Regions from separate parts of the Homo sapiens genome. Here regions 1 and 3 are each linked to region 2. Evidence: fine-mapped expression QTL. A gene starts in region 2. Each other region holds a variant in brackets. All regions are shown on one strand. Distances are from middle to middle. Region 1 overlaps ARID3A (AT-rich interaction domain 3A). Region 2 holds the start of GPX4 (glutathione peroxidase 4). Region 3 overlaps ARID3A (AT-rich interaction domain 3A).

Region 1 (10,604 bases), 160 kb after region 2:
TTGTAATCCCAGCTACTCGGGAGGCTAAGGCAGGAGAATCGCTTGAACCCGGGAGGCGGAGCTTGCAGTGAGCCAAGATCGCACCACTGCACTCCAGCCTGGGTGACAAAGCAAGACTCTGTCTCATAAATAAATACATAAATAAATAAATAAAAAGGAAAAAGTAAAAGTAAAAAAAACAAAAAAATAAAAATGAAATACCCAGTGTTCTCCTCCCCCAGGCAGTGACGAACCTGCCACTCCACGCGGCCGGGGCGTTCTGTACAGGGTCCCCGCCCCCCAGACCGGCCAGCCCACCCACAATACGCCCTCATGCTCCCACCTGGACGCCGGGCCCCTGCCTCCGCGAGCCTCATTTTTCCCTGCTGAGAAATGGGCTCGGAGTAACCGCAGGGTCCAAGCACTTTGCCCAGAGCTGGGCACTCAGCAATTAACTCCGTCCTGGGGTTCCCTGCAGACGGGACCTGGACGGTCCCAGAAAGCCTCAGAAGTGTCATGCCCAGCAGGAGTGTCCATTTGGAAAGAGGCACCTGGTGGGAGACTGCGGTCCCATCACTCCCAGCCCAGGTTCTCTGAACAGAAACGCAGCCCAGCACCAGCAGCAGGAGCCGGGCAGTGCAAGGGGCCAGAACACGCCTGCCCCGGCCATGTCGACGCCGTCCCCACAATGGGACACGGGCCTGCCTGGAGTCCGGGCCCAAAGACGGCTGCAGGAAGGAAGGGGCTGCTTCCACCTCCCACCCTAGAGTCAAGAGGAAGGGCCCTCCCTGGTGGGCTCAGGGTCCGGGGTCCCTTGGGGTACACCTGGCCGGAGCTTCTGCCAGACCCCAGGCTGAGGGCAGGACAGGAACTGCCCCTACCATGGGCAGCAGCCTCGGAGGAGTCACTCAAGGCTCTGCCCGCTCCAGGGACACCCCACCATCCCACCCGCTGCAGGGAGCAGACGGAGGTGGGCTGGGGCCGCCCTGGACACCTCCCCGCTAGGGAGCAGACGGAGGTGGGCTGGGTCAGGCAGCAGGGGCCATGCCACACGCCGTCCCCTCTCTACAGGAGTTACAGGAGAAACCTGGTGAACCGTAAAGGCCAAGGATGAAAACAAAGTCACAAGAGCTGCACTCCTTCTGATACCATCCCCGTCTTACGGGCGGGGAAACTGAGGCCGAGAGGAGGAGGTCACAGGCACCAGGCCCAGGTCGGGCAGAGCTGGGATCTCTGCATGTTGGTGTGCCCAGGCTCTCTCCCCCCAGGTGGCATTAAAGCAATGAATAACCACAGAGGTGATCTGTCTAGTTCTTCCCCAAGAACCAGGTCCAAGGGCCCCCACGAGATGGGCATGTGGCCAACTGAGGGGTGGGGGCAGTGGCTGGGCAGGGCGCCAGCTAGGGCAGAGACGCCCAGCCACTCCCGGAAAAATGGCCGTCAGGGAAGAATTACAGGGCGACGTGGTGGAAGGGACGGGGCGGGTGGCAGAGACAGGGAGAGGGGAGAGGAGAAAGAAGAGATGGAGACAGAGAGCGACCGCAGGACCCAGGGACATCCCGGCTCCCCTAAGAGCTCAGGAGTTCAGCCTGGGCAACGCAGCAAGACCCTGTCTCCAAAAAATAAAATGAAGTTAGCCGGGTGTGGTGGCGAGTGTCTGTGGTCCCAGCTACTCAGGAGGCTGACACGGGAAGATCACCGGAGCCCGGGAGGTCGAGGCTGCAGTGAGCTATGACTGCACCGCGGCACTCCAGCCTGGGTGACAGCACGAGACCCTGTCTCAAAATCCACCCCCGAAAACCAGACAATGAAGGAGGTTCAGCCAGGCTGGCAGTCGGGCCCTCCCAGGGCCGGGGTCGGGGGTCCTGGGTGGGGGACGCTCACTTGCCCGGAAGACCCACATTTGTAGCAGTGAGCGTGGTGCCCCTGAGATGGGTCAAGGTTTGGGGGCATCGACCGAAGCAACGGGGCTGAGGCCGTGGCAGACACAAACCATGGCCGTGTGGGACCGCCCCCACCGACACTCCTACCCAGACAGGCCTCCGTGCAGCCACACAGCCAGACACTCCCACGCAGACACACACACACACACACACACACCCCCTGGACGCGCCCCTGCAGCCAGACACACGGGGAGCAGACACGCCTGGGAGATAACGGCGAGACAGGCCCGCCCTCCACCGCGCTGCCGACGTCAGGACTCCAGTGCCGGCGGCAGGAGCTTCTGCTTCATGCACGGCTGTGTCCCCAGTACGCAGGCAGGCTGGCATACAGCAGGTGCCCCGTAAGTGCCCATGAGAGGGTCAGGCTGGCATACAGCAGGTACCCTGTAGGTGCCCATGAGAGGGTCGGGCTGGCATACAGATGCCCCGTAAGTGCCCATGAGAGGGTCAGGCTGGCATACAACAGGTGCCCCATAAGTGCCCATGAGAGGGTCGGGCTGGCATACAGCAGGTGCCCCGTAAGTGCCCATGAGAGGGTCGGGCTGGCATACAGCAGGTGCCCCGTAAGTGCCCATGAGAGGGTCGGGCTGGCATACAGCAGGTGCTCCGTAAGTGCCCATGAAAGGGTCGGGCTCAGACACATGTGTGCCCAGGGAGGCACAGCCTGGTGTTTCTGCCCTAACCTTGCCCAGGGCACGGTGCCACGTCAGCAGAGGTTTCTTCTCTCCACAAGTCTGACATCAGCGTGTCACTGGGGCTCCAGGGGAGGGTCCTTCCCTCCTCTCCCAGCTTCTGGGGGCTCCAGGTGTCCTTGGCTTGTGGCCACATCGCTCCAGCCTCTGCCTCTGTCTCCACACAGCTATCTCCCTACGTGTCCGTGTCCAAATTTCTCTTTTTTCTTTTCTTTTTTTTTTTGAGACAGAGTCTCGCTCTGTCACCCAGGCTGGAGTGTAGTGGTGCGATCTCAGCTCACTGCAGCCTCCGCCTCCTGGGTTCAAACAATTCTCCTGCCTCAGCTTCCCAAGTAGCTGGGATTACAGGCACCCGCCACCACGCCCGGCTAATTTTGTATTTTTAGTAGAGACGGGGTTTCACCATGTTGGTCAGGCTGGTCTCAAACTTCTGACCACAGGTGATCCGCCCTCCTCGGCCTCCCAAAGTGCTGGGATTACAGGCATGAGACACTGCGCGCCCGTCCTTTTTTTTTTTTTTTTCTTTTTTTGACACAGGGTCCTGCCCTGTCGCCCAGTCTGGAGTGCAGTCGTGCCACTATAGCTCACTACAGCCTCGACTTCCTGGGCTCAAGCAATCCTCCTGCCTTAGCCTCCAGAGTAGCTGGGACCACAGGCACGCACCACCACACCCAGCTAATTTGTGTAGAGACAGGGGTCTCACTCTGTTGCTGAGGCTGGTCTCAAGCTCCTGGGCTCAAGCGAAACTCCCGTCTTGGCCTTCCAAAGCGCGGGGATCACAGGTGTGACCTCCCCCTTAGAGGACAACCGACCGGCATGGGATTTGGGGCCACCGTACGCTGCAGGACCTCACTGAAACTAACATCTTCAGAGACCCTATTTCCAAATGCAGTCCCATCTTGAGGTTCTGGGTGGACGTGAGTTTTGGGCGATGCCATCCAATCCAGACGGGGCTCCTCCCGGAAGGCGGGTTCTTACTTGCTCTCACGTTCTCCGTCTCTGAGGGTGGCAGAGGAGGCTGCTGGGCATGGAATCTGGGCACTATGTCCAGCGTGGCTTCTGGACATGGGGCCTGGGTCCCCAGGGAGCTCACTTCCTGAGCCTGGCCAGAACCAGGGCCTGCGGGGCAGTGGGAGGGGCGGCCTCCACCTACTCCCTGCCCACCCACCTGTGCCCACGGACCCCCAGCCCAGCCCTGACCAAGGGGCAAGGCTGCATATCCCGGCGCTTGGGCCTTCAATGGCCAGATTAGTCAGCGTTTAACCCTGTGACCCCCAATTGTCCTCTGGCCATGTGCAGCCGGCAGAGCGGAGAAGAGGCGGTCCGCACCCGCCCCCCGTGTGCCACCCACCAGGTCGGCACCGCAGCGGCTCCCGGCCCGGCTCCCGGCGGCCAGTGGAGAGGACCTTGAGTCAAGCGTCCCTCGTGGGTGACGCCCCTGGGTGCCACCGCCGGGCAGCTGCGGGGGCCATGTCGCCACCGCCCCAGTCAGGATCGACAGTCAGGTAATTTGGGCCATCGAAGGGACCTGGACTTCAGCCCTTTGTGTCCAGCAGGGAAACTGAGGCAAGAGTGGACAGGGCTCTGCCGGCAGCTCCTCGGGGTCGGAGAGGGTGGGGGTGCACCCCCAGCGGCCCTGTCCATAGCTCGGTGGCCACTGGGGCTCCATCATCGGCTAGGCTGGCTCCAGAGCCCATGGCGGGCAGGGGAGGCGCTGATCTGTGCCCCGCGGCCGACGCGCGCTGCTGACCAAGACAGACAGCGCCACTCTCTAGCAGCCCCGGGGGTCTAATGGTTAATAGGCCCCACCGCGACCTCATGCTTCAGGGTCCAGCACGAGGCTCCCAAATGCTCAGGCACACAGGAAGGTCGTCTGTCACGGGCACACGTGCGCACACGTGGCGAGCCCAAGCAGGCACGCTTTTGGACACACACTCTCCAGCCTCGACGTGCACACACACATACGCTTGCAGCCACCCCTGACACACACACACACACACACACACACACAGCCACATCCACACAAAACACAAGAGACCAGTCCGGCACAGCAGCTCACGCCTGTAATCCCAGCACTTTCAGAGACCGAGGCGGGAGGATCACTTGAGCCCAGGAGTTTGAGACCAGGCTGGGCAACATGATGGCAAGACCCCATCTTTATAGTTAAAAAAATGCACACACAGGAGATCATCACCCCAACATAGACATTCACAAAGGACGTCAGGGCAGACACACGTCTGGACACACTCACCAACAGGTCCACGCAAAACAGGGACGTGGGAAGTTTGCCACGTCACTCGGCACACAGAGACCTAAACGAACACCGTGGTGCTGGCTGGGGACACGCAGGCGGGCGCGTGAGGTGCCGCTGGCTGGGTGCACACAGCCCCACACACGAGACCCACAGAATCCAGCAGGTGCCCGGTGGGCAGAGGCCTTGGAGGGTCCGAAGATGCTGTGTCTGGAGCAAGATTCCCTCCCAGGCAGGGTCCCACGAGACAGGACCCACGAGCCGCCCGGCCACAGCCCCAGCGTGCACACTCGCACGCACGCCACGGCGGCTCACCACGCCCATTCCCCCGCCCAGGCACCACGC[G/A]GGGACACTCTCTGCCTGCGGGCACCGCTCCCTCGGGCTGCCGCGTGTGTTATTAGAAAGCATGGGGCGGGGCCGGCGCTTGGCAGCAGCCACCAGGGTGGGACGCCGGCGGTGGGCGTGGGGCCAGGCCGCGGCGGCGGTGACCCCGCGGCGGTGACCCGACGGCCAGGCGGTGGCGCAGGGGCCAGATAAGGCTCTTCCGGCTGAGTCAGCGACGCTCCTGGCACGGGCACGGGCCGGGGCACAGTGCCAGGGGCTGGCGGGCACCCACCCACCCCTCGCCCGCCAGGGCCCAGCTGGCCCGGCGCCAGCAGCCACAGTGGCTTTGATGAGGCGGGCGCTGCCCCGGTGGGGAGGACCAGGTGCCCAGGGGGCTTCCCGACAGCCCTCCCGGCGGCTCACGTGCAGCCGGGGCTCCCGGAGGCCCAGGAAGACGCCGGCACCAGGGCTGGCGGCCGAGGGCCTGGCTCGGGGCTCTCTTGACAAACACACTCTGTCTCAAACACAGCCGCTGCCTCTGTGTGCTCGGAACCTGCTGCCTGACCTCTGGGCAAAGGCCCCAGCTGCACCATCTGCCTAGAGCACCCGCCTGTGCTGGGAAAATTCTCCTCCTTCTCCTTCTTCTCAGGCCCCAGAAGCCCAGCTGCAGTGTTGGCCTCTTCTACTCCTGCCTGGACCAAGGGTGCCTCCGTTCTGTCTCCAAAACAGGCTCCAGAAGGGTCCTCCCAGCCTCCTTCTCCCAGCTCCAAACCCTGCCAAGTGCCCTCAAGCTCTGCCCACCCCTCCTGCTACACCGAGAGCTTGACTGACCCGCGGCCCAGGACGGCTGTAAATGCGGCCCAGTGCAAACGCGTACATTTCTTAGCGCACGATGAGAGTTTTTTTGCAATTTTTTTTGGCTCATCAGGTATCATTAGTGTTACTGTATTTTACATGTGGTCCAAGACAATTCTTCTTCTTCCAATGTAGCCCAGGGAAGCCAAAAAGTTGGCCACCCTGGCCCCACACATTACGCTCCAGTCACAGTGATCCCAGAGGCAGGCCCTGCCCTGCTGTGGCTCGCTAACAAACTCTTACACATCCTGCAAAGCCCCAGCCCCAATGCCCCTTCCTCTTGGCAGCCTCCCCCTCAATCCCCTCTAGCCCAGCCCTGACCCCTCGAGGGATGTGGGGAAGCCCAGCAGCGCCCCTAAGCCTCAGTCTGAAATGGACGTGGCGAGGCCACGGCAGACCCCAGTGCTACCTTCACATCCAGCTCTGTCTCCCACCAGTCTGGGGGTCTCCGGGGCACGACGAAGAAAACGTGTTGCCGATTCTCCCAGAGCCCTGGCAATTCCAGCTCCCCACCTCCTCCCCACACTGCTCCAAGCAACTCTCACGCCCCGAAGATGTTCGTTACAGTATTGCTTACAACAGGGAAATGACCGAGGGAAGTGTGTGGACGTGGGGGTGTCCAGCGCCACGAGGGGAACGTCCATACAGCTGAAAAGAACCAGGTGGCTCGGAACATCCCAATTACGACGCGAACGCACCCAAGATAAACAGCTCCTCGAAGGCAGCGGCGGGAGGAACCTCCCGACCTGCCCGGAAGATCACACGTTAGATACCTCCCAGGTCACATTCCTGGGTGTGAGTGGGCAGAGAAAGGCCTGGAGAACATGCGGCTCATGCCCTAGAGGTCAAGGGAGGGACTCGGGGCTCCCTGTAAACGTTCCATTTTCTTCCTCTCTGCAAGAAGAGTGTCAAGTGTTACTTCTGGAACCAAAAGTGTATCGAGAGGCCGGGCGCGGTGGCTCAGGCCTGTCATCCCAGCACTCTGGGAGGCCGAGGCGGGCAGATCACGAGGTCAGGAATACGAGACCACCCTGGGCAACATGGTGAAACCCCGTCTCTACTAAAAATACAAAAATAAGCTGGGTGTGGTGGTGGGCGCCTGTAGTCCCAGCTACTCTGGAGGCTGAGGCAGGAGAATTGCTTGAACCCGAGAGGCGGAGGTTGCAGTGAGCCGAGATGGCGCCACTGCATTCCAGGCTGGTGACAGAGCAAGACTCCGTCTAAAATAATAATAATAAATAAATAAATAAATAAATAAATAAATAGGCCAGGTGTGGTGGCACGCGCCTGTAGTCACAGCTATTTGGGAGGCTGAGGCAGGAGAATGACTTGAACCCAGTAAGCAGAGGTTGCAGTGAGCTGAGATTGCACCATTGCACTGCAGCCTGGGTGACAAAACAAGACTCCGTCTCAAAAAAAAAAAAAAAAAAGAGAGATAAAATAATGTATCTATGTGTATTTTCCACAATTAAAAAAAACAAATGAGCTGAAAAGACCAAAAAAAGACCAAAAACCGGATGCCCGTTTCTTGCTGGGGTCTCGCTTCACTCCCGAGAGCTGCCTGGCAGGCACCGTGGTGAGGACCCAGCGGTCTCTGGGGCTGGGCCCAGCGAGGTGTGTCTGGCCTTGAGCCTGAGAGGCTGCTGGTGGCCGTCCCTGCCCCAGTGCCCACACACGCCCAGCTGTCAGGCCCGGAGGCCTGGATATGAGGACAGCACTGAGGTCTGGCCTGGTCTAACCACTTTCATTCCAGACAAAAAGAAAAACGGAGGGGCAGCTGAGCTTCCCCAAAACCGTCCCACCAGCAGCTCCCTGGGCCATCCATCCACACACCGCTGGGTCCTCTCTGGCAGGTGCATCCCGGGGGTCAAATTCCAGCTCTGACACGTCCCCCGGGCGACTGTGCACAAGTCATGTGATCACCCCATGCCTCAGTTTCTCGTCTGCACAACAGGTTCAACGGCAGCTCCTTGGGATCCAGTGAGGATCTGGGAGACGACCCATCTAAAACACTCAGTCACTTTCTTCACGCAGTGAAGCAACAGATACCGGCTAGTGCCGTCATTCCTACACCTCTGAGCTCATCTGCAAGTTACATGGGCAGCAAGCTTTACTTTGGAAAGCAGAGGGAGAGATCCTGACACTGAATGAAAATCAGAACCACAGTGAGAAACCACGCCACCCCCACAAGGAGGCTAGGATCAAAAGTCGACAACAGGCCGGGCGCGGTGGCTCACGTCTGTGATCCCAGCACTCTGGGACGCTGAGGTGTGAGGATCACCTGAGGTTGGGAGTTCAAGACCACCCTGCCCAACACGGTGAAACCCCGTCTCTACTAAAAATACAAAAAATTAGCCGGGCGCAGTGGCTCACACCTGTAATCTCAGCACTTTGGGAGGCCGAGGCGGGCGGATCACGAGGTCAAGAGATCGAGACCATCCTGGCTAACACGGTGAAACCCCATCTCTACTAAAAAATACAAAAAAATTAGCTGGGCGTGGTGGCAGGTGCCTGTAGTCCCAGCTACTCGGGAGGCTGAGGCAGGAGAATGGCGTGAACCCGGGAGGTGGAGGTTGCAGTGAGCCGAGATCGCCCCATTGCACTCCAGCCTGGGTGACAGAGCAAGACTCTGTCTCAAAAAAAAAAAAAAAAAAAAAAAAAGTCGACAATAACAAGTGGTGAGGATGTAGAGGAACTGGAACCCACATCTGTGGCTGGTGGGAAGGTAACGTGGGCAGCTGCTTGCTAAACAGTCTAGCAGTTCCTCTGATGGGTGAATATGGAGTCACCAGCAGACCCAGCAATTCTCCCAGATACACACCCAAAAGTAATACAAACGTACGCCCACATAAAAACGTGTACAGCACTACAAACCCAAAAGGCAGAAACAGGTCGAGTGGTCACCAACAGCGGAACGGGCAAACACAATACGGCACATCCATCCAGCGGAGTATGACTCAGCCGTGAAAAGGAAGGAGACTCCGACCCAGGCCACGGTGCTGATGCACCTGGAGGACGTCACGCTCAGTGAGATACGCCAGACACAAAAGGCCACGCAGTGTGTGATCCCATTTCTTTTCTTTGTTCTTGTTTTTCTGAGATGGAGTCTCCCTCTGTTGCCCAGGCTGGAGTGCAGTGGCGCGATCTCGGCTCACGGCAATCTCCGCCTCCCGGGTTCAAGCGGTTCTGTCTCAACCTCCCGAGTGCTGGGATTATAGGTGCCCGCCACCACACCCAGCTAATTTTTGTATTTTTAGTAAAGACAGGGTTTTGCTGTGTTGGCCAGGCTGGTCTCAAACTCCTGACCTCAGGTGCTCTGCCCACCTCAGCCTCCCAAAGTACAGGGATTACAGGCGTGAAGCACTGCACCCAGCTATGTGATCCCATTTCTATAAAATGTCCAGAACAGGCCAATCCACAGAGGCAGGAGGGGATGTGTGGTTGCCAGGGGCTGGGGCGTGCTGGTAGAATAGGGGGATAATAGTTAAAGGGTCAGGGTTTATTTTATTTTATTTATTTAGAGACAGAATCTCTCTCTGCCACACAGGCTGGAGTGCAGTGGCATGATCTCGGCTCACTGTAACCTCTGCTTCTGAGTTCAAGTGATTCCCCTGCCTCAGCCTCCCAAGTAGCTGGGACTACAGGCGCGTGCTGCCACGCCCGGCTAATTTTTTATATTTTTAGTAGAGACAGGGTTTCACCGTGTTAGCCAGGATGGTCTCGATCTCCTGACCTCGTGATCCGCCTGCCCCGGCCTCCCAAAGTGCTGGGATTGCAGACGTGAGCCACTGCACCCACCCTATCCTTCTTATTTTTTCGAGACAGGGTCTCGCTCTGTCACCAAGCTGGAGTGTGGTGGCGCGATCACGGCTCACTGCAGCCTTGTCCTCCTGGGCTCAAGGGATCCTCCCACCTCAGGGTCCCAAGTAGCTGGGACTACAGGTGTGCGCCACCACACTCAGCTAATTTTTGTAGAGATGGGGTCTTGCTATACCGCCCAGGCTGGTGTAGAACTCCTGGGCTCAGGCTATCTGCCCATCTCGGCCTCCCACAGTGCCGGGATCACAGGTGTGAGCCACTGTGCCTGGCCCCAATCGTACAATTAAAACAGTGAATTGTATGGCATATGAAGTATAGCCCAATAAAGCTGTTTTTTAAGATTCATCTCAAATTCATTCAACACTTATTAGAATTGTTGAGACTAAAGGTTCAAATCCTTAAGCAGCTGAAGATCTGTGATTAACCGCCTGTGCGTGTAAAATCCCATCACGGGCCGGGCGCGGTGGCTCACGCCTTTAATCCCAGCGCTTTGGGAGGCCGAGGCAGGCGGATCACAAGGTCAGGAGATCGAGACCATCCTGGCTAACACGGTGAAACCTTGTCTCTACTAAAAATACAAAAAATTAGCCGGGCGCGGTGGCGGATGCCTGTAGTCCCAGCTACTCGGGAGGCTGAGGCAGGAGAATGGCGTGAACCCGGGAGGTAGAGCTTGCAGTGAGCCGCGATCGCGCCACTGTACTCCAGCCTGGGCGACAGAGCGAGACTCCGTCTCAAAAAATA
Region 2 (9,470 bases):
ATCGGCCGGCAGAGCCAGCTGGAGGCCCTGGACAGCCTCCGCCGCAAGTTCCACCGGGTAGGCGGCCGCCGGGCGCAGCTTTCGCTCGGGTTGCCGGCCCTGACCCCGCCCAGGCTCATGCGGCCCTGTGTCCCTAGGTCACCGCGGAGGAGGCCAAGGAGCCCTGGGAGAGTGGCTACGCTTTGTCGCTGACGCACTGCAGCCACAGCGCCTGGTGAGGGCGGGCCGGGGACCAGGGGGAAACCGGCAGATGGCGGCGACCCAGGCGGGGATCGGGGGCTCCCGAGACCCTGAGAGGAGGCGGGAGATCTCAGGGCACCTGGGGAGCCTGCGGGCCCCTGGGACCCGCCTGAGCCGAGACGACCCGTCTCGTCCGCAGGAACCGGCACTGCCGGCTGGCGCAGGAGGGTAAGGACTGCCTGCAGGGGCTGCGGCTGCGGCACCACTACATGCTGTGCGGCGCGCTGCTGCGCGTGTGGGGCCGCATCGCCGCCGTCATGGCCGACGTCAGCAGCAGCAGCTACCTGCAGATCGTGCGGCTGAAGACCAAGGACAGGAAGAAGCAAGTGGGTGAGTGGGCGGCGGGCGCCCCGGGAAGGCCCGAGCCCCCAGCGCCGGCCCTGACCCCGACGCTCTGCCCGCAGGCATCAAGATCCCCGAGGGCTGCGTGCGCCGGGTGCTGCAGGAGCTGCGGCTGATGGATGCGGACGTGAAGCGCAGGCAGGCGCCCGCCCTGGGCTGCCCCGCCCCGCCCGCCCCGCGCCCGCTGGCGCTGCCTTGCGGCCCCGGAGAGGTGCTGGACCTCACCTACAGCCCCCCGGCCGAGGCCTTCCCGCCGCCCCCGCACTTCTCTTTCCCGGCGCCGCTGTCCCTGGACGCCGGCCCCGGCGTCGTGCCGCTGGGCACCCCCGACGCCCAGGCCGACCCTGCGGCCCTCGCGCACCAGGGCTGCGACATCAACTTCAAGGAGGTGCTGGAGGACATGCTGCGCTCGCTGCACGCGGGGCCGCCCTCCGAGGGCGCGCTGGGGGAGGGCGCGGGGGCGGGGGGCGCGGCGGGCGGTGGTCCCGAGCGGCAGAGCGTGATCCAGTTCAGCCCACCCTTCCCCGGCGCCCAGGCTCCTCTCTGACACGCCTTTAGGCGAAACATGCCCCAAGACACAGGGACCGTTTCTCCCCTAGGAGCAGCGGTGGGGAGCAGGGCCAAGGTCCCCTGACCACTGCTCAGAGGAGCCCTAGGCCCTGGCCGCAGTGCCTTCAGCGCCCGACCCGGGCCCCCACCTGGTCAGCCCTGGCGGGGCCCACTCAGGACAGCTGGGGGCCGGGGCGTGGCAGGGCCCTCTCTGTGCCTCTCCTCCCAAGTAGGAAGGGGCTCCGGGTGGCTGCTCTGGGACTGGGCACCCACAAGGGCTCAGTGGGCCCAAACCCTTGAAATCCGTGAAACCGGGTGGTCCCAAGAGCTAGAAACTCAGGAAACCCCAGGTGCTCAGGGCCCCGCGTCTCGGGGGCTCCGTGGGGCAGACCCCTGCTAATATATGCAATTCTCCCTCCCCCAGCCCTTCCCTGACCCCTAAGTTATTGCCCGCTCACCTCTCCCAGGCCCCAGGCCGCGGAGCTGGCAGGGTGGCGCCTGCGGTTTCTATGTATTTATAGCAAGTTCTGATGTACATATGTAAAGGACTTTTTTAAATATATGTGCCTTTTGCCTACTTCCCACGGAGTCTGCTCCTCAGCCTGTGGGACAGGGAGGGAAGGGCAGGGGTGTGTGGGCATCCCCCCAGGCTCTCCTGGTTACCAGGCCTTTCTGCCCACTGCCTGTGCTGGCCCCATGTGGATGAGAGGGGACGAGGGCTGGGAGAGACAGACCTCTCAACCCAGTGTCTGGGGCAGGTGCCATGGACCGTCCATTCCACAGACCCCCAGTGGGGGCAGCTGGGATCAGCCACCCTGGCAGGCTGCAGTCCCTCTAGCTGTGCAGGTGGGCAGCCAGGCCGTGTCCAGACAGCCCCCGGGTCCCATGAACGGTGGCTGGTACTGCTCTACCAGCCCCTCCTGGCCTGTCCATCCCCAGCCCTCACGGAGGGACTCTGTGCAAACAGTAACCACCCAGCCACCCCCACACCCCCCAGCCAGGTGAGGCCCCAAGGGCCGGTGTGGGTGCCCAACCCATCCCCAGCACCAGGGCCACGCTGTTCCTCGGGCCTCTGCACTTCTGCTTCCTGGCCAGGGGAGGCCCCAGTAGCCACCTCCTAACAGTTAAGGCCCGGGGCCAGGAAGCACAGCCACTTAGAATTATCTCCTCCAAGACTCGGCACTACACCAGGCCCTGCCTGTGCACAGCAGGTGGGGCTGCACGGATTAAGAGCCAGGGCTGGGTGTCCAACGGGCCCAGATCTCACTGCACCCCAGCACTGCAGCCAGCACAGCCCCCCGAGCCTGGAGGAAGAGGGGGCAACAACACGCCACCTCCATGGCACCCCCAGCCTGGCAGCTGACGGCAACTGGCCCTGACATGGAGGGGCCCCTGGCAAAAGGGCCCCCCAAGCCCCTACGCAGAAAGATCCAGCAGGCTAATTTGTCTGTTTATTCCCACAAGGTAGCCAGGGGTGGGGGCGCCGAGCCAAGCCCAGCAGGCCATGGGACCTTCCTCCGGCGGGGTGCACGCTGGATTTTCGGGTCTGCCCCACCAGCAGGTTTGCAGGCAGGCCGTCATGAGTGCCGGTGGAAGGCTCCAAGGGCGTGGGCAGGGGCTCGGGCGGGGCCACACACTTGTGGAGCTAGAAATAGTGGGGCAGGTCCTTCTCTATCACCTGTCGGGGAGGAAAGCTGGGTTAGGGCAGCTACCTCCCAAGCCCCCGAGCCTCAAGCGGGCTCCCTAGAGAGGACCTACCAGGGGCTCCTCCATGGGTCCGTAGCGCTTCACCACGCAGCCGTTCTTGTCGATGAGGAACTGTGGAGAGACGGTGTCCAAACTGTGGGGCCACCCCTGCAAGGGGCTGAGGCTGCCCTTCCTGTCCGCTGCCCATCTGGGCCACGGCTGTGGCCAGGGGAAGCTGGTCCCCTACCCCCCACAGCCCCCTTACCTTGGTGAAGTTCCACTTGATGGCACTGGAAAAGAAGCACATGGACGTGAGCGTCCCCAGCAGCCCCCCACAGTCCCCAAGCTGTCCTGTCTCCAGGAGGCCACAAGGGTGTGAGCTTCCCCGGCTGCCTCCACAGCCACAGTGCCCCCAAGCCCCCCCAGAGCCATCTTACCCCAGGAGGCCATGCAGTGTGAGAGTCCCAACAGCCCCCCACAGGCCCCCGAGCCATCCTGTCCCCAGGAGGCCACAAAGGTGTGGGCATCCCTGGCTGCCTCCACAGCCCTCTATGTCCCCCTGAGCCATCTTACCCCCAGGAGGCCACGCGATGTGAGAGTCCCAGCACCTCCCCGCAACCGCCCCCCGAGCCATGAGCCATTCTGCCCCAGGGAGGTGTGAGCATCCCAGCAGCCCCCCCACCCCCACCCCAGCAGCCGTACTGTCCCCAGAGGTCACGCACTTTCCCAGGATGCCCTTGCCCTTGGGTTGGATCTTCATCCACTTCCACAGCGGGTGGGCGTCGTCCCCGTTCACGCAGATCTTGCTGAACATATCGAATTTGACGTTGTAGCCCGCGGCGAACTCTTTGATCTCTTCGTTACTCCCTGGCTCCTGTGGCGGCCAAGGTGTGTGAGTGAGTCGGGGGCTGGCACCCCCTCAGTCCGGGCCCCCTGCACACTCCCAGGCCCTCTCCAGGCTGGAGCCCACCCCGACCCCCACCCACCCGCCTCTGCGGGCCCCGGGGACGCAGCAGCCCACCTGCTTCCCGAACTGGTTACACGGGAAGGCCAGGATCCGCAAACCACACTCAGCGTATCGGGCGTGCAGGTCGACGAGCTGAGTGTAGTTTACTTCGGTCTTGCCTCACTGGGAGGCCACGTTGGTGACGATGCACACGAAGCCCCTGCGAGGATCGGCGGCGTCAGCGCAGAAGAACACGGCCCCCTCCCAGGGCCCGACCCCGCGCCCCACCCCAGGCGAGCGCCCACCGGTACTTGTCCAGGTTAACCATGTGCCCGTCGATGTCCTTGGCGGAAAACTCGTGCATGGAGCGCGCACAGCGCCAGTCGTCCCGGGACGCGCACTGCAAGGCAAAGGAAGCTGAGCAGGGAGCGTGGACGGGAGGCTGAGCCCGGGACCCTGAGGCAGGAAGGGATCGGGAGCGGGTCGGTGGCGGGGACACCGAGGCCCTGCGGCCCTGAAGACCTGAACGCTCCTCCTCCTTAAACGCACACGCCCCCTTGTACTTCTGGTCCGGTTTTACCGGAGACCCGGAGGCCGGGAGAGGGTTCCAACCCCAAAATGTGCCACATTAGCCGGTGTGGGGGCCCCGCGCGCACCGGGTCCTGGGACTTGGGACATTCGTGGATCTCCGGTCGCAAGCTGCGGGGACAGGGCTTCTTCCGCCGGCGCCGCGCCCTCCTGCGCCTGCACGCTGGGGCCTTCCGCCGCCGAGGGGCTCGCGGCCGCCGCCTGCCCCGGCTCTGGCACCGCTGCCTGCGGCGCCCGGGGGAGCCTGCGCCCGCGCGGCCCATACCCGCCCGTCTCCCGCCCCTCCTGGCTCCCCCACCCCGAGCGCCGCTAGCGGGGACAAAGGGCCCGGAGGCCGTAGTCAGGACTGCGCGACTGTGACGCCACCGCGCTAGGCCAAGGTGCGGGGGCGGGGCGGCGCCCGGGGGCGCGTGATCCGGGATTTCCAGCCCTCCGCGCCCCCAACCGCTCGGGCGCAGCAGCCCCGCTCGGCCCGGAGACGCCCCGCCGTGGCCCTCAACGGTCCAGCTCCGCCCCAGCCGTCCCGGACCCCGCCCCCTGCAAGCCTGGACCCCCGACCCCGGCCCCGGCACGCGCGCCTGCAACGGCCTGGACGGCCCCTTCCCCGACCACGACCCGCGCGCGTGGAACAACCCCTTCCCCTTCCCCGACCCCAGCCCGCGCGCCTACAACGGCCTGGAGGGCCGCGGAGCGCGTCGCAGTACGGTCACCCGCGTCCGTGCCCGGCCGGGGGTGGGGAGGGGGAGCCCCCAGACGCCCCCCACCAAGGTCACTGGAGCCTGAGGGTTCCCCACGCCGGCGAGCGGAGGCAGGGATCGCGCGCCCGCCCCAACGGTCACCGGGCCGGCAACGGCCGCGGCGCTAGCTCACCATGGTCCCGGCCAGGCCAGGCGCGGCCAGAGCCCCACAGAGCAGCGCCGGCTTCAGTAGGCGGCAAAGGCGGCCGAGGCTCATCGCGGCGGGGCTGGGAGCCAGCGGCTCCTCCCCTCGTCCAGCCGACCAATGGACGCGCGTCGGCTTTCCGCGCCTCCTTTCCCACGGCCACGCCCTCCAGAGCGCTCATTGGTCAGACGCGTCGGTGTTGAGCGCTCGCGCCGACGTCAGCCAATGGGAGGCCGGAGTGGGAAGAAGGCGGGGAAGGGGGGGCGGGACCGGACGTGCGGACTTGTTGTTGGCGACTGCGCATGCTCGCTTGTGTCTAGGAGGCCGTGGCCTGGCTGGCGGCGCGTCGGGAGGCAGCGCAGTTATCCGGCTGGTTGACAGCAGCGCGGCCGCAGGCCAGACAACCTGAGAATACTACTTAAGACTCGTCGAGGGGGTTTGGTTTCTCCAACTCGCAGAAAAGTGTCCCCAACTCTTATTTACCTTTTTTTTTTTAAGACACGGGGTCTTGCTGTGTTGCCCAGGCTAACGTGCAGTGGCACGATCAGGGCACACTGCAGCCTCGACCTCCCAGGCTCAAGCGAACCTCCCGTCTCTGCTTCCCGAGTAGCTGGGACAACAGGCTCATCCACCATTCCTGGCTAATTATTGTTTTGTAGACATGGGGGTCTCGCTATGTTGCCTAGGCTGGTCTCAAACTTCTGACCTCAAGTGATCCTCCAGCCTCAGCTTCCCAAAAGTGCTGGGATCACATGCGTGAGCCAAAGGCTCGGCCGGGATTTGCCTTTTTTTTTTTTTTTTTTCCGAGACACAGTTTTTTTGCTCTTTTGCCCAGGCTGGAGTGCAGTGGCGCTATCTCAGCTCACTGCAACCTCCACCCAGCCCCCGGGTTCAAGCGATTCTCCTGACTCAGCCTCCTGAGTAGCTGGGATTACACGAGCGAGCCACCACACCCAGCTAATTTTTTTGTATTTTTAGTAGAGACGGGGTTTCACCATGTTGGCCAGGCTGATCTCGAACTCCTGACCTCAGGTGATCTGCCCGCCTAGGCCTCCCAGAGTGCTGGGATTACAGGTGTGAGCCACCGCATCCGGCCAAGGGATTTGCCTTTTTAATGTAAATGAAACCAAACTGAGTTGGGTTTGCTTCTCATCACAGCTCCATCTTATGGGGGTGTCCCTACCCTCACCCCTGCCATGGGCGCAGGGGGTCAGTGACTCCCCATCCTGGGTCTGGTTGCTGAGCCGCTTGTATAATGTGGGCACTGAGACCTGAGAGTCATCAAGACAGTTACCACTTAACTGAGAACCTGGAGTTTCCTGGGCTCCCACCCCCAGGGGCAGCTGCCCACGCAGGGACGCGCGGTATGTGCTCAGAAAATAAACACAAGTCTGGAGGGTTTTCTTACACTTCTAACATTACAAGGTATGGGCACACCCGAGCCCATACTGCCCCACATCTTGGCTTCCAACTCTGTTTTTCACTTCGTGGCTTGGACATGTGGCAACAGAAACACTCATCTCATACTTGGGAACTGAGTCACCGTGATTGGACTTTGACCCCTGTACAGGCAGGGGTTTGGATTTTTTTTTTTTTTTTTGAGGAGTCTTGGTCTGTCACCCAGGCTGGAGTGCAGTGGCTCCATCGCAGCTCACTGCAACCTCCGCTTTCCGGGTTCAAGTGATTCTCCTGCCTCAGTCTCCTGAGTAGCTGGGATTACAGGCATGTGCTACCACGCCCAGCTAATTTTTGTGTTTTTAGTAGATACGGGCTTTCACCATGTTGGTCAGGCTGGTCTCGAACTCCCGACCTCAGGTGATCCGCCTGCCTCGGCCTCCCAAAGTGCTGGGATTACAGGTGTGAGCCACTCTACCCCGCCTAGGTGCTTGGGATTTGTATGTTGTCCTCAAGGTCTTAACCTTTTCTGACCCTGCACTGAGTATTTCTTCAGAGACAGACTCAGGGCCGGGTTGACTTGGGGGGTGCTATGAGCCTGCCCCCGCCACTGCCCCCGACTCAGGCCTGCCAGATGCAGCACAGAGGCGTCATGGATGGTTTGGTGGCAGAGGCAGTGAAGCAAGGATCCCTGAGCAGGGCTGGCCGAATCCTGGTCTTGCATAAGTCTGTTCACATGGCTTTGCTCCCGCCCAGCCCCTAGAGGCTGAGTTCTTGGAGTCAACTCCCATTGTCTGACTTCTCAGGAAACCCCCCCATTTCCTCCCGCCCTGGCAGTGCCGGGTGACAGGGCCACACTGGTGACTCTGTTCTTGCCCTTGCGAAGGCTCAGCTGTTCGCAATTTTGCCGGTGTTGTTTTCCTTAAGTTTGTTGCAAACATGTGCACTGAAATGGGAGTTTATTTCAGGGTTGCCAGAAAAACAGCTCAGCACCCACAGCTCCGCGGAGAGACTTGATCCCATTCCTGACTTCCTGCCAATTGTGATAAAGTCAGAAGTGGGGAAAACACGGGGTCGCGACCTCGGATCTGAGAACGGGGCCCCAGGCTCTGGGAGAGATTTGTGCTGGGGGCTTCACAGCTTTTCCCAGAGTGTCCCCATTTCACGAACGGGGAAATGGAGTCTCGGGGACCTCTCAAGGCTCCAGCCCTGTGAGGGCGGAAGTTCTTGAGTGTCCCTGCAGGAAGCTGTGTTGCCACATATCTTTCTAGAGCAGCCCCTGGCTCCAGGAAGGACTGGGGAGGGGCTGTCCTGTGGCTTCATTTCTTTTTTAAGATCTTTTTGGCCAGGCATGGTGGCTCACACCTGTAATCCCAGCACTTTGGGAGGCTGAGACGGGCAGATCACGAGGTCAGGAGATCGAGACCATCCTGGCTAACACGGTGAAACCCCGTCTCTACTAAAATTACAAAAAATTAGCCAGGTGTGGTCGAGGGCTCCTGTAGTCCCAGCTACTACTCGGGAGGCTGAGGCAGGAGAATGGTGTGAACCCGGTAGGCGGAGCTTGCAGTGAGCCGAGATCGCACCACCGCACTCCAGCCTGGGCAAGAGAGCGAGACTCTCCGTCTCAAAAAAAACTTTTTGGCTGGGTGCGGTGGCTCACATCTGTAATCCCAGCACTTTGGGAGGCCGAAGCAGGCGGATCACCTGAGGTTAGGAGTTTGAGGCCAGCCTGGCCAACATAGGGAAACTGTCTCTACTAAAAGTACAAAAATTAGGGCCAGGCATAATGGCTCACGCCTGTAATCCCAGCACTTTGGGAGGCCAAGGCGGGTGGATCACGAGGTCAGGAGTTCAAGACCAGCCTGACCAACATGGGGAAACCCCATCTCCACTAAAAATACAAAAATTAGCTGGGAGTGGTGCCGTGCTCCTGTAATCCCAGCTACTCAGGAGGCTGAGGCAGGAGAATTGCTTGAACCCTGGAGGTGGAGGTTGCAGTGAGCCGAGTTCGTGTCACTGCACTCCAGCCTGGGGGGATACAGCAAGACTCTGTCTCAAAAAAAAAAAAAGTTTTTGAAATTCAAACAAAATACATATGAAATTCAACATTTTAACACTTCAAAGTGTACAATTCAGTGTTTTTAGGACGTGTACAATGTTATGAGACCATCACCTCTATCTATCTAGTTCCAGAATTTTTTTTTTCTCTTGAGACAGAATTTCGCTCTTGTTGCCCAGGCTGGAGTGCAGTGGCACGATCTCAGCTCACTGCACTGCCACCTCCCAGGTTCAAGCGATTCTCCTGCCTCAGCCTCCCAAGTAGCTGGGATTACAGGCGTGCGCCACCACACCCAGTTAGTTTTGTATTTTTAGTAGAGACAGGGTTTCTCCATGTTGGTCAGGCTGGTCTCAAACTCCCGACCTCAGGTGATCCGCCTGCCTAGGCCTCCCAAAGTGCTGGGATTACAGGCGTGAGCCACCGCACCCAGCACAGAGTATTTTCATTGTCCCCAAAGGAAGCCCAGACCCCATCAGCCTTCACTCTCCATCTCCTCCCCTAGGACCTGGCACACACACATCCCCTCCTGTCTCTGTGGATTGGCCTGTCCTGGACATTTCATGGAAATGGGATCACACACTGCGTGTTCTTTTGTGCCTGGCTTCTCTCACTGAGCATGAGGTCCTCAGGCTACATCCACATTGTGGCCTGTGTCAGAGCCTCATCATTCCTTTTCATGGCTCAGAAATATTCCAGTGTGTGGAGGGATCACATTGTGTTTATTTATTCATCTGTGGATGGACATCTGGGGTTTTTTTTTTTGAGACAGAGTCTCACTCT
Region 3 (10,604 bases), 130 kb after region 2:
TGAACTCCTGGGTTGAAACCATCCTCCTTCCTCGACCTCCCAGGGTGCTGGGATTACAGGCATGAGCCACCGCCTGGCCCAGCCTGGAAGTTTTTAAATTCCCGGGTTCCAGGACACCCAGCAGACCGGGCAGGTGTGGGCTGCTGCCACAGGCAGGAGAGGGCAGGGGCAGCAGGAAGTCGATGGACTACAGTCTCCACCTTCTCACAGGCCTCCTGCTGCGGCCCAGCCCGAGCCAGGCCTTCCTCCCCTCCTCCCCTCCCTGGGGACGTGGCCAGGCCAGGCTGCAGTGTGAGGTCAGAGGTCACCCCGCCCCCAGCCTGGTTCCTGGAATGAGGACAGACTAATCGTGTTGGAGCAGGGGACAGAAGCCACACTTTGGGGGCATCTCCAGACCACCCAGCGGCCGGATCTCGTTGGTGCCAGCTGGAGGTTGTGAAGGGGGGGTAACCAGGAAGGGGAAACTGAGGCACAGAGGCAGGAACGTTCCCCTCGGGGTGTAAGGCCCTCATTCTCCATCCCCTGCACATTTATGGAGCACCGCCAGTTTGCAGGCACTGATGAACCCAGCCAGACCCCAGTCGGCTTGGCTGCCCCGGTCCTGGCCCCACAGACCCAGCAGCTGCGGCCGTCCCGCGGCAGCCCCATCATTACCTATGCCAGTGGGGAGAGCAGCAGCCGGCTCTGGTAGCCCTCTGCTTTTGGAAGCGTCTCAGCCGCCGCCTCTCCAGTCTGGACTCTTGGCTGGCTCCGAAAATCGGCTATCAGAGGAGGGTTTGAGCTTCACCTCCGGGAGCCTCCCGCCCTCCTAGCAAGCACCTAGCAGGCGGCCCAGGGAGGTGGCTGGGCTCTGAGAGGCTAGGGGGTGGCTGGGCCCTTCCTGGGCTGGGGAGGAGGTGAGGGGCTGAGTCCATCCCTGGCTGGGGAGGGAGGTGGGGGCCTGGGGAGGAGGTGGGGGGCTGAGTCCCTCCTTGGCTGGGGAGGGAGGTGGGGGCCTGGGGAGGAGGTGGGGGGCTGAGTCCCTCCTTGGCTGGGGAGGGAGGTGGGGGCCTGGGGAGGAGGTGGGGGGCTGAGTCCCTCCTTGGCTGGGGAGGGAGGTGGGGGCCTGGGGAGGAGGTGGGGGGCTGAGTCCCTCCCTGGCTGGGGAGAGGTGGGGGCCTGGGGAGGAGGTGGGGGGCTGAGTCCCTCCCTGGCTGGGGAGAGCTGGGGGCTGAGTCCCTCCCTCCCAGGCTGGGGAACTCAGAGGTGCACCCCCTCCCTGACTCCCCGCCTCTGAGGCCCTCAGCTGCGGGTGAACAAGCAGGGCCTGACGATCCAGTTTGGGGTGGGGGCTTTCCCAGGGTTCTTCCCTCCTCTCCCTGGGGCCGGCGGGCTCCTCCAGGCAGTGAGTGGGACTCCATCTCCGGGACGCAGGGTTTGGCAGACTCATTTCTGGCTGGAATGGAAAATGCCATTTTCCCTTCCGGGGCCAGGGTCTAACGTGGGTTTCAGGAACCAACCGGCTGGGACAGGTGTGGGGGTGTTGTTGGTCCCTCGCCTCCAACACAGCCCTGGGGAGGGACGTGTCCCGGCCAGCCTCGGCCAGGATGGTGCGCGGGAGGCCGGGCAGCTGAGTCTGGGCCTGTCCACCTCCAGCCACGCTGACCCTCCTCCAGTCACGTCCCCTGGGCGTGGGCAATGGGAGGGTGGACAGTGGGTTAGGCGGCCCAGGAAACCCTTTCCTGGGAAAACGTTGCAATACCACTTTCTTTGGGTTTGTGGGCTAAGAACGAGAGGCCTTTTATTTTTTAATTTTTAATTAATTAATTAGTTAATGTTTTTAGAGACGGAGTCTCGCTCTATCACCCAGGCTGGAGTGCAGTGGCGTGATCTCGACTCACTGCAAGCTCCGCCTCTGGGTTCATGCCATTCCCCTGCCTCAGCCTCCCTGAGTAGCTGGGACTACAGGCGCCCGCCACTACGCCCAGCTAATTTCTTGTATTTTTAGTAGAGACGGGGTTTCACCATATTGGCCAGGCTGGTCTCGATCTCCTGACCTCGTGATCCACCCGCCTCGGCCTCCCAAAGGGCTGGGATTACAGGCATGAGCCACCACGCCCGGCCTAATTAATGTTTTTAGAGATGGAGTCTTGCTCTGTCACCCAGGCTGGAGTGCAGTGGGTTGATCTCAGCTCACTGCAACCTCTGCCTCCCAGATTCTAGCAATTCTCCTGCCTCAGCCTCCCAAGAAGCTGGGACTACAGGTGCACACCACCACGCCCAGCTAATTTTTTTTATTTTAGTAGAGACAGGGTTTTGCCATGTTGCCCAGACCGGTCTCGAACTCCCGAGCTCAGGCAATCCACCCACCTTGGCCTCCCAAAGTGCTAGGATTACAGGCGTAAGCCACCGTGCCCGGCCTTTTATTATTATTTTTAAGAGACAGGGTCCCGGCTGGCCCTGTGTGGCCAAGGTGGGTGTTATCATTTGAGGTCAGGAGTTCGAGACCAGCCTGGCCAACATGGTGAAAACCCAACCCGTTGCTACTAAAAGCACAAAAATTAGCCAGGCGTGGTGCCGCGTGCCTGTAATCCCAGCTACCTGGGAGGTTGAGTTGGGAGAATCGCTTGAACCCAGGAGGCAGAGGTTGTAATGAGCCAAGATTGTGCCATTGCACTCCAGCCTGGTTGACACAGTGAGACCCTGATTCAAAAAAAAAAAAAAAAGGGGCCAGGCACAGTGGCTCATGCCTGTAATCCCAGCACTTTAGGAGGCCAAGGCAGGCAAATCACGAGGTCAGGATATCGAGGCCATCCTGGCCAACATGGTGGAACCCCATCTCTACTAAAAATACAAAAATTAGCCGGGTGTGGTGGCGGGCGCCTATACTCCCAGCTACTCGGGAGGCTGAGGCAGGAGAATTGCTTGAACCTGGGAGGCAGAGGTTGGAGTGAGCCGAGAATGCACCACTGCACCCCAGCCTGGGAGAAAGAGCGAGACTTCGTCTCAAAAAAAAAAAAGAGAGAGAGAGAGACAGGGTCTTGCTGTTGCCCAGGCTGGAGTACAATGGCATGATCACTGTTCACCGCAGCCACCATGCCCGGCTTTTTTTTTTTTTTTTAATTTCTGGTAGAAATGGGGTCTCCCTATGTTGCCCAGGCTGGTCTCAAACTCCTGGGCTCTATCCATCCTCCCGCTCCAGCCTCCGAGTGTTGGGATTACGGGTGTGAACCTCTGACCCCAGCTGAGTCCCTTTACTATGTTCTGGGTTTGGGGGCTGCAAACTGGCTGTCCAGGGGCCAAATCTGGCCCTTGGTCTTGTTTCCTAGGACCCGAATGGTGTTGTAAGGGAAAAGGTGAAAATGTGGCCAGCACTGGAAAAGTTCCCTCCCCCAGCCACCAGGACGCCCCTGAACCCCAGAGGCCTCAGCTCCAGGCGGCTTCACCAGTGGGCTGGTTCCTGGGCTCGCCTAGGAGGTGAAGGAGGGCAAACTTATGGGGGGCTCGGGAACAGGGTGTCCCGCTCGGCACAAGGGCCTCCATCTGGGCCGCACAGAGGGCGGAGGAGCGGGGAGCCCCGTGCCTCCCACCCGAGGGGCCGCACCCTCCTGTCATGGGCAGGCGGGGACTGTGTGTCGGCTGCAGAGGATGGAAAGGAGTCTGTCAGAGCAAAGGGGGAGAGGGCTGTTCCCGGCGGTGGAACAGCTGTGTGAAGGCCCTGAGGCCGGACCGGGCCACTTGCCCTGGGAGCTCCGGTCGGATAACGCCAGGGGCGCCCGCATGCAGAGCCCTGTTGAGGCAGGAGGCGAGGGGTCAGGCTCGTGGGCAGGTGGCTGGGGGTGCGCACACTGGCCCTGCCACACCTGTCATCCCAAATCCCTAAAACGGGATTGGTGTCGGGCTCTCAGCGAGGCACAGAGGTGCCCAGAGCGGCCTCCAGGAGCTCCCCTCGGCCCTGTGGACCTTGCGGTTGGATCCTTCTCTGGGGTGGGGACGTCCTGGGCACTCAGGGTGCCGAGCAGCGTCCCTGGACTTCACCCACTCCATGTCAGGAGCTCCCCCCAGATGGGACAACCACAGATGTCCCCAGACATGGACCAGGGTCCCCTGGGGGCGGAATCACCCTGGTTAAGGCCCTCTGGGTTAGGGGATTCCATGGACCCCCTACAGACTCTGCATCCCATGATCCTCGGCCCTGCTGGGGTCCCAGGAGGCTGCACACACTGAAATCCATGCCCTGAGTAGGGAGGGAGAGAGGAGGCGAGTCCCAGGAGCTGGGTTCCCCCGGGTTTACACCGTCTGCCCTGTCAGGAGCTTATCCTGGTGTCTGCTGTGGGCAGGGAGAACTGTTTTTACCCCACCTTAAATAATGAAGGCAGAATTTCCCAACTCCTGCAGTGTGGATGCTGGGCGCCAGATTGTTCTCTGCGGTGGGGCCGTCCTGGGCACTCAGGGTGCCGAGCAGCATCCCAGGACTCCACCCACTCCACACCAGGAGCGCCCCCCCAGGCGTGACAACCACAAATGCCCCCAGACATGGACCAGGGTCCCCCTGGGGGCACAGACCCTGGCTGAGGACCCCTGCTTTTTTTTTTTTTTTTTTTTTTGATGGAGTTTCCCTCTTGTCGCCGAGGCTGGAGTGCAGTGGCGCAATCTCGGCTCACTGCAACCTCCGCCTCCTGGGTTCAAGTAATTCTCCTGCCTCAGCCTCCGGAGTAGCTGGGATTACAGGCACGCGCCACCACGCCCGGATAATTTTGTATTTTTAGTAGAGATGGGGTTTCACCATGTTGGTCAGGCTGGTCTCAAACTCCCGAACTCAGGTGATTCCGCCCTCCTAGACCTCCCAAAGTGCTGGGATAACAGGCGTGAGCCACCGCACCTGGCCAGACCCCCGCTTTTGTAGCTGTCTCTGCCGCCCGGAACCAGACCTAGAGCGATGCAGGGCAGAGGGGGATAGAGCACCCCCTTCCACTCACCCCTGGCTGTGCTGGGCAGGGGTGTAGGGTGGAGCTGGAGGTTGGGGAGACGCCAAAAGAAAAAAAACACCACAGGACACTTTTCTGTTAAAAGTCAGAAGTGTTTTGTCTCGTTTTAATATCTCATCAGCTTTACAGGGTTACAATCGTCTTAAATATTTCTGAAGTTTAAATACAATCTGCATAATAATGTTACTATAAAATGTAAACTTTCAGTGTTCTTTTAAATTTCAAAATCACACTTTTTTTTTTTTTTGGTCTTTTTGTCTTTTTTTTTTTTTTTCCTTTTAATACCTGAATGTTCTGCGAAAACTGAAATTGTTACAGGCCACCCTGCCGCGGCCAGGGCGAGACAGGCTGGGCCCAGCCAGAGGTAGAGAGTAGTTTTATGTTTTTTAAAAATTTTTTTAAGTTTTTTTTTTTTTCCTCCTATTACCTGAGTTTCAGGCGTGGTTCCCACGCCGTCTGACAAACTCCAGAGAAACTGAAATTTCACACGTCATGAATGAAAGGCTGAGTTTACATTTGCCAAGGAAAAAAATGCAAAAGCACAATTGGGGAAAAAAGGGACAAGGTGGGTAAAACATGATAAGAGAAAGGAAATTCAACTGTACAGATGCGTGACCCTTAAC[A/G]ACGACCCCAGCTGCCCCCCGTGCCCCGTGCCCACCCTCCCGCCTTTCTGGACAGCCACTTACGGGTCCCACGGAAGGTTCCAGAAGCCGCCTTTCTCCCAACATCTCAGAGCAGGGGGAGCCCCCGTTGGCCTTGACTGTGGGGCACCCACTCAGTACGCAGCCAGGCCCCACGGTCCCAAGTGAACTAGAACCCATCCAGGGTCCTCGTGGCTGAGGGGACTGCCCGACCCCCTCCCAGTCTGCATAAGGGGGGGTGCTGAGCTGCACCCCAGAAAGCCACACCGAATTTAAACCCCCACCGACAGGCGGTGGCAGGAGATGGGCACGGCTGGGGTTGAACGGGGCCACCTGAGGCAGGGAGGAGCCTCTGCAGACACGGCTTCCTGCCGAGTATCCAGGACCGGGCCCCATAGACCCTCTGCAACCGCCTCCCATTTCCACGGCCAGCATGGCCACTGCCTTCAGCGACTTCCTTCTCCTGGGCCGGGACCCAGCCTCGCGCCCACCCCCCACCCACCCCGCCTGTCCCTACAATCATCGGAGTTAACAGCAGGCTCAAGTCCTCTGAGTTAGAATCCAGGTCCACCCACCGCCGGGAGGCCGGATCGCCCACAGACACGACACGCAGGATTCCCGACACACACACGCAGCCCGAGGGAGACGACCCAGCCCTCGACCCTGCACGGCCCCTCCCCAGGCTCCGAGGTGGGCAGGTGCACGGGGGCCCCAGGGGTCCAGGGCCGCCAGATGCAGCAGGCAGCCAGGCCCCAGTGGCTGCTGCAGACCCTGGTGCACGGGAGGCGGGGGAGAGGCACCCCAGGGGCTCAGATTTTGGCATCAAAAGTCAGACCTGAGGTAGACAGAGATAGGCAGCAGGCGCTTCCCCCGGCGCGGGGCCCAGGCGTGGGACGGGGGTCCCGGGAGAGGAGCCCTGGAGGCCGGGGGACAGACACGGACAGAGTCCAGGTGGTTCTGCGAGTGGGGCCCGATTGTGTCTGGAGGCAAACAGACACCCCCTTCCCGGGGTGATTGTGCTGCTACGGTGCTGGCCCCAGGAAGGGACAAGGAAAACCTAGACGCCCACCACCCCCTCCTGGAAAGGGGGTGTGTGTCCACGGCCCTGAGATCCGAGAAGGAAGTGGGGGTCCCCTCCCCAAAGACACAGGAAAGTGACAGTCCCCTCCCACAGCCCGACGGGAAAGTGAACCTAGACTCAGGGGCTCAGAAGCCCCCCAGCCCCCTCCCCAGGGGTCTCCAAGGCAATGGGGAGGTGGTTGGGAGTGGGGGGAGCTGGGGAGTCCCCTTCCTCACCAAGCCCCCATGCCGGTGGCCTAACAGGGCTCCCAGGGCCCAATTAGAGACCCAGGCTTACCCTGGGAATAGCTGAGTTAATCCCCACTGCACCCCAAGAGAAATGAAAGCCCAGAGCTCCCGTGTAGGACACGACAGCCCCGCCCAACACCACGCGGGTCCAACGAAGTCCCCAGACCCTGCTGGGCATTTCAGACCCAGCCTTTCTGCTCCAGCAGCTCCAGCCAAAATAACCCCCCAGCTCAGCTGCGGTGACCCCACTTTCTCCAAGCCAGGGGGAGGGGTACTGACCCACAGGGTGGTGGGGGGCAGCCTCCCTTCTCGGCCTCGATTTAGTCACCGCAGAACTCGGGGAGCTCGCAGCCCCAGCACAAAAGGGGTTGGGAGAAGAGGAAGGGACAGAGCGAGGAGAATGTTGGGGTGTGGGGGGTGTTCAGGATGCCGGGGCCCTGAAATCCTCACCCTGAGTGAGGTCCGGCTTCACCCCCACTCCCCAGTATTGATAGTCCTCAAAAGCAGCCCTTTCGGGCAAGAGAAGAATCCCAATGAGACGCCACATTCATCCCTGAGACAGGAGCCTGGGGGCTTCGACAAGAACCACCCCCGCCCCCCAGGCCCTTTTTCCAGCACTTGCTACTTTTTAGATAAGATTTCCAGACCGGGCCAGCGTGGCGGCTCATGCCTGTAATCCCAGCACTTTGGGAGGCCAAGGCGGGCAGATCACCTGAGGTCAGGAGTTCGAGATCAGCCTGACCAACATGGCAAAACCCCCATCTCTACTAAAAATACAAAAATTAACTGGGCGTGGTGGCGGGCGCCTGTAATCCCAGCTACTCCGGAGGCTGAGGCAGGAGAATCGCTTGCACCTGGGAGGTGCAGGTTGCAGTGAGCCAAGATCGCACCATTGCACTCACTCCAGCCTGGGCGACAAGAGCAAAACTCCGTCTCAAAAAAAAAAAAAAAAAAAAATTTCCAGGCCCCTGACTCGAGAGCCCAGCAGACAAGCACGGCACAAGCAAAAGCATCGTGGAATATCACAGTCAGCAATTCACTGTCAGGGGCCCCTGGCCGGTGGGACCCCAGCATGCACCCTCTGCCCCAGCCCGGCCCATAGCACCTGAGTTCATTGGCTCCGCGGCTCTAGCCCCAGGGATCCGATGTGCTGGGCTCACAGCTGCCCAACGCACCCCCAGAAATGGACAAAGGGACCCAAATTGGTCATGGGAAAAATAAAAAGGTGAGTTTTTTTTTTTTTTTTTTTTTTTTTTTTTTGCTTTTTTTTCTTGCTTTTTCAAGACCAGTTTCCCTGAAGGAACACAAATATATAGCTATATAGATATATAGATATCCTTTTCCTAAGGTTTGATCCCCCCAAGAATAAAATAGAATATTTACACAACAAAACCCCCGAAACCTCTTAAAAACCCTACAGAGAAAAAAAAATTTCCCAAAGCAACAAGAAAAAAACAAAAATTCAGTGATCTTGGTTCAGGGGTTTCACTGGACACGAGAAGCTGGGAGTGGTGAGTGTGTGGTGAATAGAAAATAAAAGAGAACTAAAGCAGACAAAAATGAAAACACACAGTGCAGGGATGTATGAGGTAAACAGGATCGGCCCACACTGCTGTGGGGCCAAACCAGACACCAGAGCCTTCGGTCCATCAGGGCTGCCTGAACGCCCTGGGAAACGTCTGCCTCTTTCTGTTTTTCTGATGGATTTCTTTGCTGTTCTCACAATTCATCTCTCTGAATGTCCAAAACCTGAGAAATTCAAGTGTTCCTTGGTTTTCCCCTGTTTTATTAAATTCTCTTTATATATATACGTGTATATATATATATATATATATATATCTTTTTTCTTTTCTTTTTGGCGTCAGCTGTGGCTCCTTTCTGGATATCTTCCCTCCCCACCCGTATCTTCCGCCATCCTGGCCCCTGTGTGGCCCACCTGGACCCCCTGCCCAGGCCGGCGGGCTCCAGGGTGGGTGGCGGGTGGGGAGTGATGCGGTTAAGGCAACGAGTTATTTGAGGTAGATGTGGAGGGTGTGGACAGCCCCGCTGGCCCAGCCTGGCCGCCGCTGGTTCCGGTGTTTCCTCCCCGGCCGCCTGCGTTGCTGCTGCTGCCGCCGCCGCCGCCGCCTCCTTTGTTGGGAGCAGAGGTTGGCGTGGGGGCCGGCGGCTGAGCAAACAGAACTCCTAAGGCAAGAACAGAAGACATATGCCATGCAGAGTTTAAGAAGATGCGAGGCGGGCCACAAGGGAGACCCAATGGGGTGCTCCGGGGAATAAACTTCTCTCTCACTCTGTCCCCCAGGCTAGAGTGCAGTGGTGGCATCAGAGCTCACTGCAGCCTCAACCTCATGGGCTCAAGTGATCCTCCCAGCTCAGCCTCCCGAGTAGCTGAGACCACAGGGGCGTGCCACCATGTCTGGCTAATTTTTTATTTTTTTGTTTTTTTTTGAGATGGTGTCTCGCTCTGTCGCGCAGGCTGGAGTGCAGTGGTGCGATATTGGCTCACTGCAACCTCCACCTCCTGGGTTCAAGCAGTTTTCCTGTCTCACCCTCCTGAGTAGCTGGGACTAACTACAGGCGCCTGCCACTACACCAGCCAATTTTTTATTTTTAGTACAGACGGAGTTTCACCATGTTGGCCAGGCTGGTCTCCAACTCCTGACCTCAGGTGATCCACCCACCTTGGCCTCCCAGAGTGCTGGGATGACAGGCATGAGCCACTGTGGCTGGCAATATTTTAGCAATTTTTTATTTTTTGTAGAGATGGGCTCTCAATATGTTGCCCAGGCTGGTCTCAAGTTCCTGGCCTAAAACAATCCTCCTGCCTCTGACTCCCAAAGTGCTGGGATTACAGACGTGAGCCCAGCTTAAACTTCCCCACTGTGTCTGCTCACTCCTTCATCACACACATGTGCATATATATGGATGCACGTGAGCACACACGTGTGTTTAATCCACACATGCACATCAGCGTGCACACAGCTCTTGCAGGGAGAACCCTGATGCCCATGGTTCGTTGATGTGGGGTTGCGAGACCCCTAGCACACAGTTGGCCTTCTCCCCTGTAAGATTCAATATGAATGTACACGTTTTACATCTGATTTCCGGAGGGCACGGACCCCTCAAAAATCCATTTGTGGACCTGTGAGGACACCACTGACCTTCAGCTCAGCCTCTGACCACAGCCGGGCGGGGGCCTGCAACAAGGCTGCTCTGTGTCGACAGCGCCACCTGGTGGCCACTATGAACCATCGGCCTGACTCCACTTTAAGAAAAACTATTCATTTACCGCCGGGTGTGGTGGCTAATGCCTGTAATCCCAGCACTTTGGGAGGCCAAGACCAGCAGATCACGAAGTCAGGAGTTCGAGACCAGCCTGACCAACATGGTGAAACCCCGTATCATCTAAAAATACAAAAATTAGCCGGGCCTGGTGGCATGCACCTGTAATCCCAGCTACTCAGGAGGCGGAGGTTGCAGGAGCTGAGATCATGCCATTGCACTCCAGCCTGGGCAACAGAGTGAGACTCTGTCTCAAAAAAAAAAAAAAAAAAAAAAAAAAAGAAAAACTATTCATTTACTTATGTTCTTTTGTAGAGATGGGGTCTTCTGTGTTGCCCAGGCTGGCCTCAAGCAAACCTCTCTCCTTAGCCTCCCAAAGTGTTGGGATTACAGGCGTGGGCCACTG

The links.
Region 1: its variant is fine-mapped to the expression of GPX4 in spleen (GTEx, PIP 0.98).
Region 3: its variant is fine-mapped to the expression of GPX4 in ileum (CEDAR, PIP 0.95).

The regions. Positions count from the first base shown.
Region 1 is chr19:935,801-946,404 of GRCh38, reverse strand. The region is part of intron 3 of ARID3A (AT-rich interaction domain 3A); the gene reads right to left. Among named protein-coding and RNA genes, the nearest start is that of ARID3A, 15 kb to the right of the region's middle. RefSeq lists silencers at 5,229-5,508, 5,569-5,688. The variant G/A (reference allele first, on the strand shown) is at 5,211.
Region 2 is chr19:1,099,879-1,109,348 of GRCh38, reverse strand. It overlaps GPX4 (glutathione peroxidase 4), which reads right to left and starts at 5,355. Exons shown (of 7, transcript NM_002085.5): 1 at 5,222-5,355; 2 at 4,069-4,163; 3 at 3,839-3,983; 4 at 3,540-3,691; 5 at 3,083-3,107; 6 at 2,890-2,949; 7 at 2,570-2,809. The coding sequence starts at 5,305. The coding sequence ends at 2,777. It overlaps SBNO2 (strawberry notch homolog 2), which reads left to right. Exons shown (of 32, transcript NM_014963.3): 29 at 1-57; 30 at 138-214; 31 at 380-570; 32 at 645-1,711. The coding sequence ends at 1,129. RefSeq lists enhancers at 2,338-2,507, 2,053-2,929, 6,232-6,311, 6,332-6,381, 6,412-6,781 and 1 more and silencers at 4,520-5,539, 5,550-5,629, 8,918-9,055.
Region 3 is chr19:970,374-980,977 of GRCh38, reverse strand. It overlaps ARID3A (AT-rich interaction domain 3A), which reads right to left. Exons shown (of 9, transcript NM_005224.3): 9 at 5,039-9,100. The coding sequence ends at 8,913. Among named protein-coding and RNA genes, the nearest start is that of WDR18, 8.7 kb to the left of the region's middle. RefSeq lists a cis regulatory region at 294-307 and enhancers at 228-372, 323-913. The variant A/G (reference allele first, on the strand shown) is at 5,591.